Linked DNA regions of Homo sapiens: region 1 is linked to region 2. Evidence: fine-mapped expression QTL. A gene starts in region 2. The other region holds a variant in brackets. All regions are shown on one strand. Distances are from middle to middle.

Region 1 (5,389 bases), 160 kb after region 2:
TCCCACTGTAAAAATAGGTATTACTTTACATTTTAATTAGGTAAATGCAGGAAAGTCAAATATCTTGCTATATTAGGTATAGTTCCCTTCAGTGTTTTTTTTTTGGAAATAATTATAGACTTACAAGAAGTTGCAAAAATAATGCAAAGAGTTCATTTGTATCCATAATCCAGCTTCCCCCAGTAATAACATCTTACATAACTATAGTACATTATTAAAATCAAAATTGTCATTGGCATAATGCAATGAACTAAGCTATAGGTCTTATTCAGATTCACCAGTTTTTGCACTTATTTATTTATATTTTATGTGTAGATGTTATGCCTTTAAAAAATCAAGAATCTATGTCTGTCAATCTGTTTGACTCCCTGGATCTCTATTTCTGTTCTTATAGAGAAATGGAATTGTACTATCCATCCATATTATTTGGTAGCTCATTTTTTTTCACTTGTAAGAAGTGTTTTTTCCATTTTTCTAATTCATTATTTTTAATGTATACAGAATATTTAACATATTGGGTGAATATATAAATATTTCCTAATCCTTTCATATTGGCATTTAGATGGTTTCTCTTTATTTGCTTTTATAAATCGGCAGATAGACTTGCATCTTTGGGCTTGGCATTCCAAGGATATATTTTTTTTTCCTCTCTCTCTCTCTCTGTCTCTCTCTCTGTGTGTGTGTGTGTGTGTGTGTGTGTTTCTCTTTCCTTCCTTCTGGTAAATTCTTAGCAGATTTCAATGTATATTATCCAGCCATTCTCCAAAAAAATAATAAATATTGTAAGTTCCCACCATCTTTTTCCTTATGAAATATTTGAAGAATAAAGATAATAACTTAGAGGACACTCAACACTGAATTCTGTGAAATCTTAGTATTTTGTCACATTAGTTTCAGATCTTTTTATCATAAGCAGTAAAACATTACAGACACAATTGACGCTCCCTGTGTATCTCTCCCAATTACATGGTATTTACAGAAACAATCTTAGAATAATTTGTAAGGCTCGATGGAAAGGAAAAGTTCTTTTTGGACATTCTCAAATGATTGATTGTATTCCCTCTTTTTAATAGGAGCTCATATTCAACATCTCTCCATGGACATGAGCTAAGTGTTGAGCAGAATGAGTTAATGAATATGCTCTCTGCCTTCTGGGAGCCTCGACTGTAGAGGAGCATTTCATCAGAACATTGCAGCATGTTGTTTTGCATGAGTTATAAGCTGAAAGAGAAAGAAATGGATAGTTAAGATAAAGATGTAATATGAAAAAATGAAAAAATGTATAGTCCTAAAGTTCTCAGGTTTAGAAAACATTAATTTCAATCCTTGTCTATTGCTCTCCTGTCTTCCTCCCATTTCTCCTTAACCAGAGCAACATTAACACCAGGTCAGCTAGTTGGGGTCCTCCTCCCCTGCATCGTGCTGCTGCTGCTCTTTCTCTTTCTTCTCCTTCTCCTCATTTCCTTCTTTGTTCATCATTTCATTATTGTTATCATCAGGAATACATGCTTCTGTTTTTTCCAACAAATACTAGCTGTCATTAGGCAGAGTACACCCTCCATTCCACTCCCTCCTGGTTCTCTGGATAACTCTGAGGTTTCTTCAAAGTTACCCACTTGTGGCCCTGGGGGCATTCTGGATTGTAGGTCTGGTTTCTAGGAACCTGCTCTCATTTGGAGTTTGGTTCTTTGCCAGCTCATCATGACATTTCTGAATTGGTTGACTGGGGACCACTGTTCCTAAGAGAGTCCCTAAAGTGTTATGAAAAGGACTGACTGATGAAGCATGCTTTCCTTTAAAAACTCTACTTTTAAGTTTATGTTATTAGCACTGTATTTGAATTTAATATACTTATGCTTTGAAACCTAAATGTTTTTATCTTTTACTTTGAACCTTAATATTAATCTAATTATCATTTTACATTTTCTACCTTTTTAGATTAAACCAAATCCTATGTCCTTTTACTTAACTTATTGGTTTTTCCTGCATTTTCCTCTAGAATACAAATAAACAAGATAAAATGTATCCTTAACGTCTTTGAATTTACTGTCAGGCATGACTCACAACCGGAGAATCTTTAAGATCATTCATTCATGTCTTTTCACTGACAGTGGATTCAGTTCAGATAACAGGCATTGATTTCCTGAAAGCTTTTCTTTCTATTCTTTTTCCTGTGGGCTGCATTTCTCACCACTGGCAATTCACCTAGCTTTAATCCGAGATGATCTGGCAAGGCGGAAGATGTCTATGTTGTCCTTTCATGTCGAGATGGGACAATCTGGCTAGAGATGGTGTGATGGGGCCAGATTCTGAGTATACATACTCATGTAGGAAGGATCGGTGGGACTAAGGAATGCCTCTGTCTTTACATCAGGTTTCTCTGTTAAAATAATTATCTGTGCTATGGAGAGATGTGCTTTCCA[A/G]GTACTTTCACAAAAACAATATCCCTAGTGGTAAATTAACATAAGGCTATTATTCTGTTCCAAGTAAGCAATTACCCAATTTGGAGAGTTTCCTGGAACAGTCAGTTGATACTTCCCAAAGGCCAAGTATCTGTAATTCAGATGGGATATCACTGTGTGAATAAAGCAAAATGTTGCCCTCTTAAAAATACTTAAAGCCTGCTCTGTTTCTGTGCAACAGTAGTCTTTTGAGCTAGTCATTGTTTTTGCTGAGCACTGACTATTTACCTTATAAGAGTCTTTTTATTATTTGTCAGAAGAGAAAGTGTCAGGAGAGAATTTGTAAGGAGAATGTGTCAGGAGAGTATATTACATTTCACATTTATTCACACTTACAAGCTTTTATTTTAAAATAATCATTGAGCATTTGTTGTGTGCCATTAATGAACTAGCATGTGGTCCCTGCCTACAGAAAGCAGAGAGTCTGGGAGGACACAAAAGTACACAAAAAAACATGGATACTTAAAAGCGGACATGCACTTGTACCATTTTCTTTTTCTTCTTTTGTTATTATTATACTTTAAGTTCTGGGATACATGCACAGAAAATGCAGGCTTGTTACATAGGTATACATGTGCCATGTGGTTTGCTGCACCGATCAACCGGTCATCTACATTAGGTATTTCTCCTAACGCTATCCCTCCCCTTGCCCCCCACCCCCTGACAGGCCCCAGTGCGTGATGTTCCCCTCCCTGTGCCCATATGTTCTCATTGTTCTACTTCCACTTATGAGTGAGAACATGTGGTGTTTGGTTTTCTGTTCCTGTGTTAGTTGCTGAGAATGATGGTTTCCAGCTTCATCCATGTCCCTGCAAAGGACATGAACTCATCCTTTTTTATGGCTGCATGGTATTCCATGGTGTATATGTGCCACATTTTCTTTATCCAGTCTATCACTGATGGACATTTGGGTTGGTTCCAAGTCTTTTCTATTGTGAAAAGTGCTGCAGTGAACATATGTGTACATGTGTCTTTATGGTAGAAATTTAAAGTTGTTTAATTTAATTAAACTTTAAAAATCAGTTTCTCAGTTGCATTAGCCAAGTGTGGCTATTGAGCACTCATATGATGGCTACTGTGGTGGAGAAACTAAATTTTAAATTTTATTGTATTTTAGTTAATTTAAATTTAAATTTAGTTAGACACATGTGGCTAGTCGTTACCCTACTGAGCAGCAGAGACATAGAACATTTCCATTGTCACAGAAATTACTAGACAGAGCTGCTCTAGAGAAGGGAGTGGGAATGCTTTTCTTTTCAGGACCAGATTGAATATTTTTGGCTTTGCAGGCCAGACCAGTTCCATTGCAATCTCTCAGTTCTGCTGTTGTAGAGCAAGAACAGCCACAGAGAATACACATAAATCAGTTATATGTTCCAATAATGTTTTCTTTGCACAAACACATAGTGGACCAGTTTGACATGTGAGTTGTAGTTTGCTGACCCCGGCCCTAAAACTTTGGTTTCTTTTGTATTCGTTTTCCTTACTCTTTTCCTGTTTGCCTCTAAAATTTTCCTTTACAGTATTCCATATTTCTCAAACACCTCCCTGCTTCCATCTTTGTTATCACAACACACTTCATTGTTTCAAAACACTATAAATGATCACCCTCCACTTGTGTCCTGCTCCTGCCCATTCTACCTGTGACCATAGAGCTATGCCCTCCTAACTCACTTTAGCCAGTCTGCTCATCTGTTAATGTGTGTAATAATAGTAATTGTCTGATGTGGTTATTGAAAGGAGCTAATGAAATGTGTATAAAATTACGATCGTGGAAGGCATGAACATTCTCACATTAACACATTAACACAGAATAGTTGAGACTCAGAGCCCAACTAACACTAATACCAGTGTGTCACTCATTGTGTGTGGACCTCAGGTAGGAAACTTGTCTCTACCTCAGTTTCCTCATATGTAAAATGAGGATTATTGGATGTAGTAGGTCCTTGAATAACGGCATTTTGTTCAACTTTGTTTTGTTGTAATATTGAAGTGGAAAAAAAAAAGAACAATTCTTGGGCAGCGCCACTGTCTGTGTGTGTTGTTTGCATGTTCTACCCATGTATGGGTGGGATTATTCCGGGTACTCTGGTTTCCTTTCACATCCTAAAGATGTGCACATAAGGTGAATTGGCATATCTAAATGGTCCCAGTATGAGAGAGAGAGAGAGAGAGAGAGTGTGTGTGTGTGTGTGTGTGTGTGTGTGAGACTGTGCCCTGCGATAGGATGGTGTCCTGTCTGGGGCTGGTTCCTGCCCTGTCCCCTGAGTTGCTGAGATAGGCTCCAGCCGCCCACAACCCTGAGCTGAATAATTGGGTAAATAATGCTCTTAGTGGTTGTTATTTATCTTTTTTAAATGTATGGATAGCTCATATTTATTTCAGTGTTTACTATTAGAAGTGTTTTGGGTCCTTATTTAGAAATTTGATGATGTTTTTGTGACCAGAAATATGCCCTAGGAACTTAACACTTGTTTATATCAATTAGCCTGTGGTGAAATTAGTTTCCTTGTATGTCATTTTGCTTAAAGTCTCCATTTCCAAAATCCTATTGATGATGTTAAATGAAGACCTACTGTATTTACCTCACAGAGTCCTCATGAAGATTAAGTGAGTTAATTTGTGTTAAATGCTCATAGCATTGTCTTGATACAATTCTTTAAAATTTTTCCCTAAGGTTTATAGATGAAAAAAGAAAGTCTTAAACATGTTAATTTGTCTGCAGTCATTTAAATAACTAGCAAATGACATGGCTAAGATTCGAACTCTAGTCTGTTGGCCTCAAAGCTCAGGCCTTAACATTGTACTACATTCCTTTTCACATCCATCAGCTCCTTACCACATTCCCTAGTTTAGAATTAATCTCTTTCTTATTATGTGCTTTCATCATGCTTAGTTTGTACCTCTGTCAGGAAATTTGCCACATT
Region 2 (5,389 bases):
CTCACGGAGTTCTATCCAATAGGGATAGACAAATGCAACAGAGTGTGATAAATGCTTTAATGGGGCCAAAGCAGCAAGTCAATTTAGAGCGCATCAAAGGGTACCAAAGCAGCCTGGGAGAGAGGTGATCTGGAAAATCTCCCAGTAGGTGACCAAAAACTGAGTCCTAACTCTAATTAATTGAATTATAGACTGCTAAAGCTGCACAGTGTTAGAATCATCTAATTCAAACTCCTGATGTGGCACAGAGAGAATCTGATGTCCAGAGAGGCTGATGTATGCAGAGTGAGTATCAGAGTTGCAGCTAGGACCCAGATATGTAATACTGGGTTGCCTCTTTAAAAATGCACCTTTTTTGAAGGGAAATTTTTAGAACCTTTTCCTTCATCAGTTTAATAATGAAAGTAATTAATCATATTTGAATAAGATACGGAGAACAATATTTATATATATTGACTTTATGCTCAGTGGTGATGCCAATAACCCATCATCTCTTGGTTATAGATTTTCCATGAGCTGCTGATGAATTTTTTCAGACTCATCCACAGGGTAAACCTGCTTGTCTCCTGAGCTACTGCATGTACGTAATTACACTCAGAAGGACAAGTAGAGTTTGGCTGTGAACAAGAGCAAACTTTAAAAATAAATCTTAGTCCGATTAGCACCTCCTCTCATCAACCGACTGAGGCATCTAAGGGCTAAGGTAAAACCCAACATTGAAATATTTGTATTATTAGTAGTAGTGGTAGTATATAAAATGACCCAGGTATGCAATCTTCTTGGAGTTTTTGCTCCTAACATAGTCACTTGATTTGGGATGTTTAACGACTGTGATTTTGTAATGGGACAATATAAGAGCTCATTACATTAAAACATAAATACTTGGGAAGCTCATAGTTTCTGATAGCTTGCCATCTGTTTGGTTCTTACCGGCAATGGATTTATCCTGCTTAGTGCAGATGATGATATTGTGGGTAAAATCATGGATTATACAATGGATTTCTGAGGTCTTTAACTACTGTTATTAATTTTGCCAGCTTACAAATCAACATTTTCTAATATAAAATCAATTACATTTTATTTTTCAACTCTTACCCTAAGAAAGGTTGCTATGGGCACCACAGAACATCTGTTCTGGCGCCAACAGATTGCGTTAAAGTCACCCACAGTCTCTCCAAATTAAAAACCTCAAACTGAGTTCACTGGCTTTGTTACTGTACTCTCAGCAGGATGTTCTTTTGCCTTGCCCATCGTTCAGTTTAATCCTCTAGAAAGAAAATTTTTAGAGGTACATCGGACTAAATCATTTTCTTCTGAGTACACCATTTCCAAATGGCCGCCCAGGGTCCTAAATCCGGCGGCTGCGGAGAGGGACTAGAGGGTGTCCTCCTCTGCAGAGCCGTAGGACTCGAGCGCCTTCATCACTGGACGCTGGAGCCAGGAAGGAAACCCACACACTCAGGGACAGGTATAACCCCACAGGGGTGCACCAGTGAGGCCCCGATCGCAGCGGAGGACTCCATCCCTGAGCTTGTGAGGGCGTCCTGGGGAGGAAGCGAACACTTTCCCCGTTCAAGTCAGAGAGCAGGACTCACTGGGTGGCAGGTCAGAAGTTGAATTTTAACCCGACCTGCGCTTTGTCCCCGCGCCTTCCGCAGCCTGGGCGCCGCGGTGGCACCGAGCTGGGAGAGGACACGAGAGGCTGGCGCGGGAGAAGCCGAGAGTTGCTATCGACCGGGAGCTGCCGGCGGCGGGAGCAGACGCGACCCTCGCCGCTTTCGATCTCGAAGCCGCGGAGAGCCGATCTCGGCTGCTGGGGCTCGGCTCCCCGCGCTCTGCCTTGCCCTTTCGGCAGAGGGCAGCTCCCTGCCTGCTGCAGCCCCGCCACTGTGCGCCCGGCAGCCCAGGGGTGCGCCCAGCCCGCCCCCCGAGTGGCCGCCGGGACTCCAGCAGTTGGACCGACCCTCGCCCTCCGGCGCCTGGACAAACTTCCTTCCTCCCGGGCCCCTGCGCCAAGCAAGCTGACAGGCGGCTCCCTCGCCGGTCTCCTCTGGGCTCTGGCCGGGCGAGCTTGCTCTCTGCCCCTCTCCAACCCCGAGCCCCTGGCGCCTATAGCCGTCCCCGCGCAGCGGCTCCAACAAAGCCAGAGGACCGGAGACGACCCGGCGAGGGGCTGGGAGTGGCAGCGGGGACCCCAGAGCCAGAAGGAGGCGTCCCCTCGGCGGGGCGAGTACAGTGGGAAGGGGCAGCGGGAACGTAGCGGGGAGAGAAAGGGGAAGAAAGTGTTCTGTTCTCGGCGCGAACGCCTTCCTGGCTCGTCCTCGTTCCCCTTCTCCTCCTGCCTGAGCGCGTCCCATGTCCCGTTGGGAATTGGCAGGCGGGGAAGGGAGGAGGGGAGAGGGGACGCGGTGGCCTGGCGAGCGAGCCGCTCCCTTACCTCTGTCCAGGGTGAGCGGCTGGACCACTGTCAATGTCGCCATGTCTGCCGTGGGAGCCGAAGTGACGCTCGGCTTCAGCATCAGCAACCGCTCGTAGTGAGAAAAAAAGGAGGAGATTGGGGGCGGGGGTGGAGAGGGAAGACGGAAAGGAGGGGGAGGAGGGGGAAGGAAGGAAGGTGGTGGTGGTGGAGAAGAAAGCTTGGGTGGGTTGGTAGCCAGATGGAGACGCAACTGTTCCGCGGCGGCAGATCTTCAGTTGCGGTGCGGAGCTGAGCAGGTATCCGAGAGCGACTGCATCGCCGGGCTCTGGGAGGGAAGGCTCTGCCCTAGAACTTTGCTATTCCACCCCCAGGAGCGCTGGGTGGGTGTAGCTGGCGGGTTGCTTCCTTTCAACTTTCCACTCTAATAAAATGGTCAGAATATACGTGTGTGCATGCGGGTGCGTGTGTGTATAAGGGGAAGAGAGAGGATGGAAAGGGGATATGGGGAAGGGAGTGGGAGATGAGTTTTCTCAGATTAAGAGAAATTGCCAATCCAATAATCCCATCCCCTTTAGAGAGAAAATGCTTCCATTATCAGAAATGTTTGGGATGTAATTACATTTGCAGTTAATTTCTGTTGAAGTTTTTCGGAATGTTGACCTATAACGGCATATAAAGATAACTGACTAAAGGCCAGCGTTCCATCAGTAGATGTTCATTTAGGACCTGAGTATATTGCCTGGAGAAAAAAAAAAAAAAAGGCAAACCTCTTAAAAGTGCTTCAAAATAAAAAACGTGTAGGTAAGTTTCTATCGCTAAGTTTTTCTTTTTCAAGCCACTGTTAATACATTACCAATTCAGTAAATGTAGCTTAGAAACAAGTACAGTGTTCAGATTTTCTCCGAATTTTTTACATACCACATCCTGTAAACATGCCCCACTCCCCCTCACCCACCCAGCAACAAAAACTTTGCTCTTAATGTCCAAACTGATTTTGGTTGTCTATGACTACGTTTGAAAAATATGTACCTAGCACTTTTCATGTTGATTTCTAACCAGTGGTTCAGAGATGCCACTTATCGATTGATTAACATATATGCCAGGAATTGAGATAGAAGAGTTACATTGCCTTGTGCCACGCCTTGATTTAGGAGTTCAATTTAGTCTCCGACTTCCTGTAGCCTGTAATCTAGTGGGAGATGGTGTTATTAAAAACCTGACTTTAGAGTCAGTTGATCAGGATTAAATTACGAGAGCCTTCAAATACTGGCTGTGACCTCTTCGCCCCAATAAAAAGGCTACTTTCACTATCTTGTCATAGTAGGGATTCATTTCCTGACTACGAAATCAAGAAACATAAAGAAACCTTCTATAAGCTGAATAGGGGTGACTGTGGGTGCAGGATTGGAAATGACAAAGCTGCCTCCATCTTGTTTCCTGTGACAGAGCTGAATTGTTTGGGCTAACAATAAACTCTAAAAGGCAGATACTGTTTTATAGCAAAATATTTGCATATAATTGATGCCATTTTCTTCTGATTACAGATAGGATTTCTGAAGGTCTTTTTCATTTTATAGTCTACAATTGAATTTTAAAAAACAACATTTCACCAATGTGGGAAAGCCAAAGATGATTGGCCATATATAGACTTAACAGACCCTAAGAACAAACCTAAAATAGTAGTTCGATATGTTTATTTTTATTTAGTATTTAAGAAAGAATGCTGATCTTGACATTTGAGTCTTAGTCATGTACTCTTCGGAAGTCACACAATCTCTCACTGATCCTGTTTCCTCCTCTGTCATACAATGGAAATAATATCATTCAATGTCACAGAGATCTGTCATATGAGGAAACTAATTCTACCTTGCAATCTCACAGAGTTTTATGAGGGTCTAATGGAGTCATACATGTGACTGTGCTTTGAAAACAGTAAAGAATATACAAATTTATTTATACAAGCATACATCCCCTGGAACCGTGTGGTAAGCTCTGTGCTAGGTGCTAACCATGCAAAGATTAATGAGATGGCCCCCTTTCTGCCCAGTCTTGCTTGGGAGACAGTGAGCAAACCATAAGCTTCTGTGCAGTACTCTAAGCACTATTAAAAGGAAGTGCCCTCGGTGGCCAGAGGTTGCAAAAACAACTTTGGTTTTTTACCGTTATTCACATGCCCTGAATTAAGCAACAGAAAGAAGTTGAGATGAGCGCAATGATACCAGAGTGTGTTACAAGCTTTTGCACAAAGTTATTAAACCTCACTCGGTAACTGAGGATAAAAGAACATACAAATCCCTTGACTTCTAATGTAGTTATTTTACAACATCCTTTATTAGGGAATATGTATTTAAGCAGCTTGATTCATCAGCCCAAAAGTCATAAATTGTACCCATTCCAACACAAATCCCTGATTGTGGTGTCAGTGAAGGTAGAGTTTTCTTTGTCTTTTTGTTTCCTAATGCATCCTCAGGACTAAACATTTCATAGCATATTTCTGGACTTCTGCCTTGAGCTTCCTATTTGAAATTTGCTCTGTCATTCTTTCTCTGTGTTGACTCTGTAGGGTTGTTGTTGTTTTTAAATCAAGATTAAAAGAGAAATTAAAAGGAAGCATAAATCACCATAAATTCATCTGTTATTATTTTTAGTAGTGGAAAGTTCATTCCCTTTAGCTTATGTCTACACAGGTGTAGAAAATTAATAAAAATTCATTATCCATTAGAATTTGTTTTTATGAATAAATACTATCTCTCCAATAATATTTGTGAATTTCGTTTTGAGACATGCAGGGATATACTTGATCTAGTCACATGCCAGTTGCTTTGCTGTGTATTTACCTGAGAATTGTTAAAATATTTGTAATTATGCTTTTATCTTAGCTATTTGGTTACAAAATCACTACACTCTTTCATTAAATGATATGTAGAAATTTAGTTTAATGGTAACTATATTTTCATGGAGTTAACTAAT

Which allele goes with the higher level. Positions count from the first base shown, and alleles are read on the strand shown. Sizes are in standard deviations (SD) of each study's normalised expression.
In carriers of allele A in region 1, the expression in neural progenitor cells of the gene that starts at base 2,731 in region 2 tends to be higher than with G alone (large effect, 0.79 SD a copy in Aygun 2021).

Evidence for each region. PIP is the estimated chance that this variant, and not a neighbour inherited with it, causes the effect. A credible set is the group of variants that fine-mapping cannot tell apart.
Region 1: its variant is the best candidate, but not a certain one, in a credible set for the expression of LIN7A in neural progenitor cells (Aygun 2021, PIP 0.85).

The regions. Positions count from the first base shown.
Region 1 is chr12:81,093,512-81,098,900 of GRCh38, forward strand. The region is part of intron 1 of ACSS3 (acyl-CoA synthetase short chain family member 3); the gene reads left to right. It overlaps ACSS3-AS1 (ACSS3 antisense RNA 1), which reads right to left. Exons shown (of 5, transcript XR_007063390.1): 5 at 287-1,221. Among named protein-coding and RNA genes, the nearest start is that of ACSS3, 18 kb to the left of the region's middle. RefSeq lists an enhancer at 1,993-2,494. The variant A/G (reference allele first, on the strand shown) is at 2,424.
Region 2 is chr12:80,935,204-80,940,592 of GRCh38, forward strand. LIN7A (lin-7 cell polarity scaffold A) reads right to left here and starts at 2,731. Exons shown (of 6, transcript NM_004664.4): 1 at 2,438-2,731. The coding sequence starts at 2,519. MIR618 (microRNA 618) reads right to left here and starts at 630; the gene lies at 533-630. RefSeq lists a silencer at 1,859-2,068.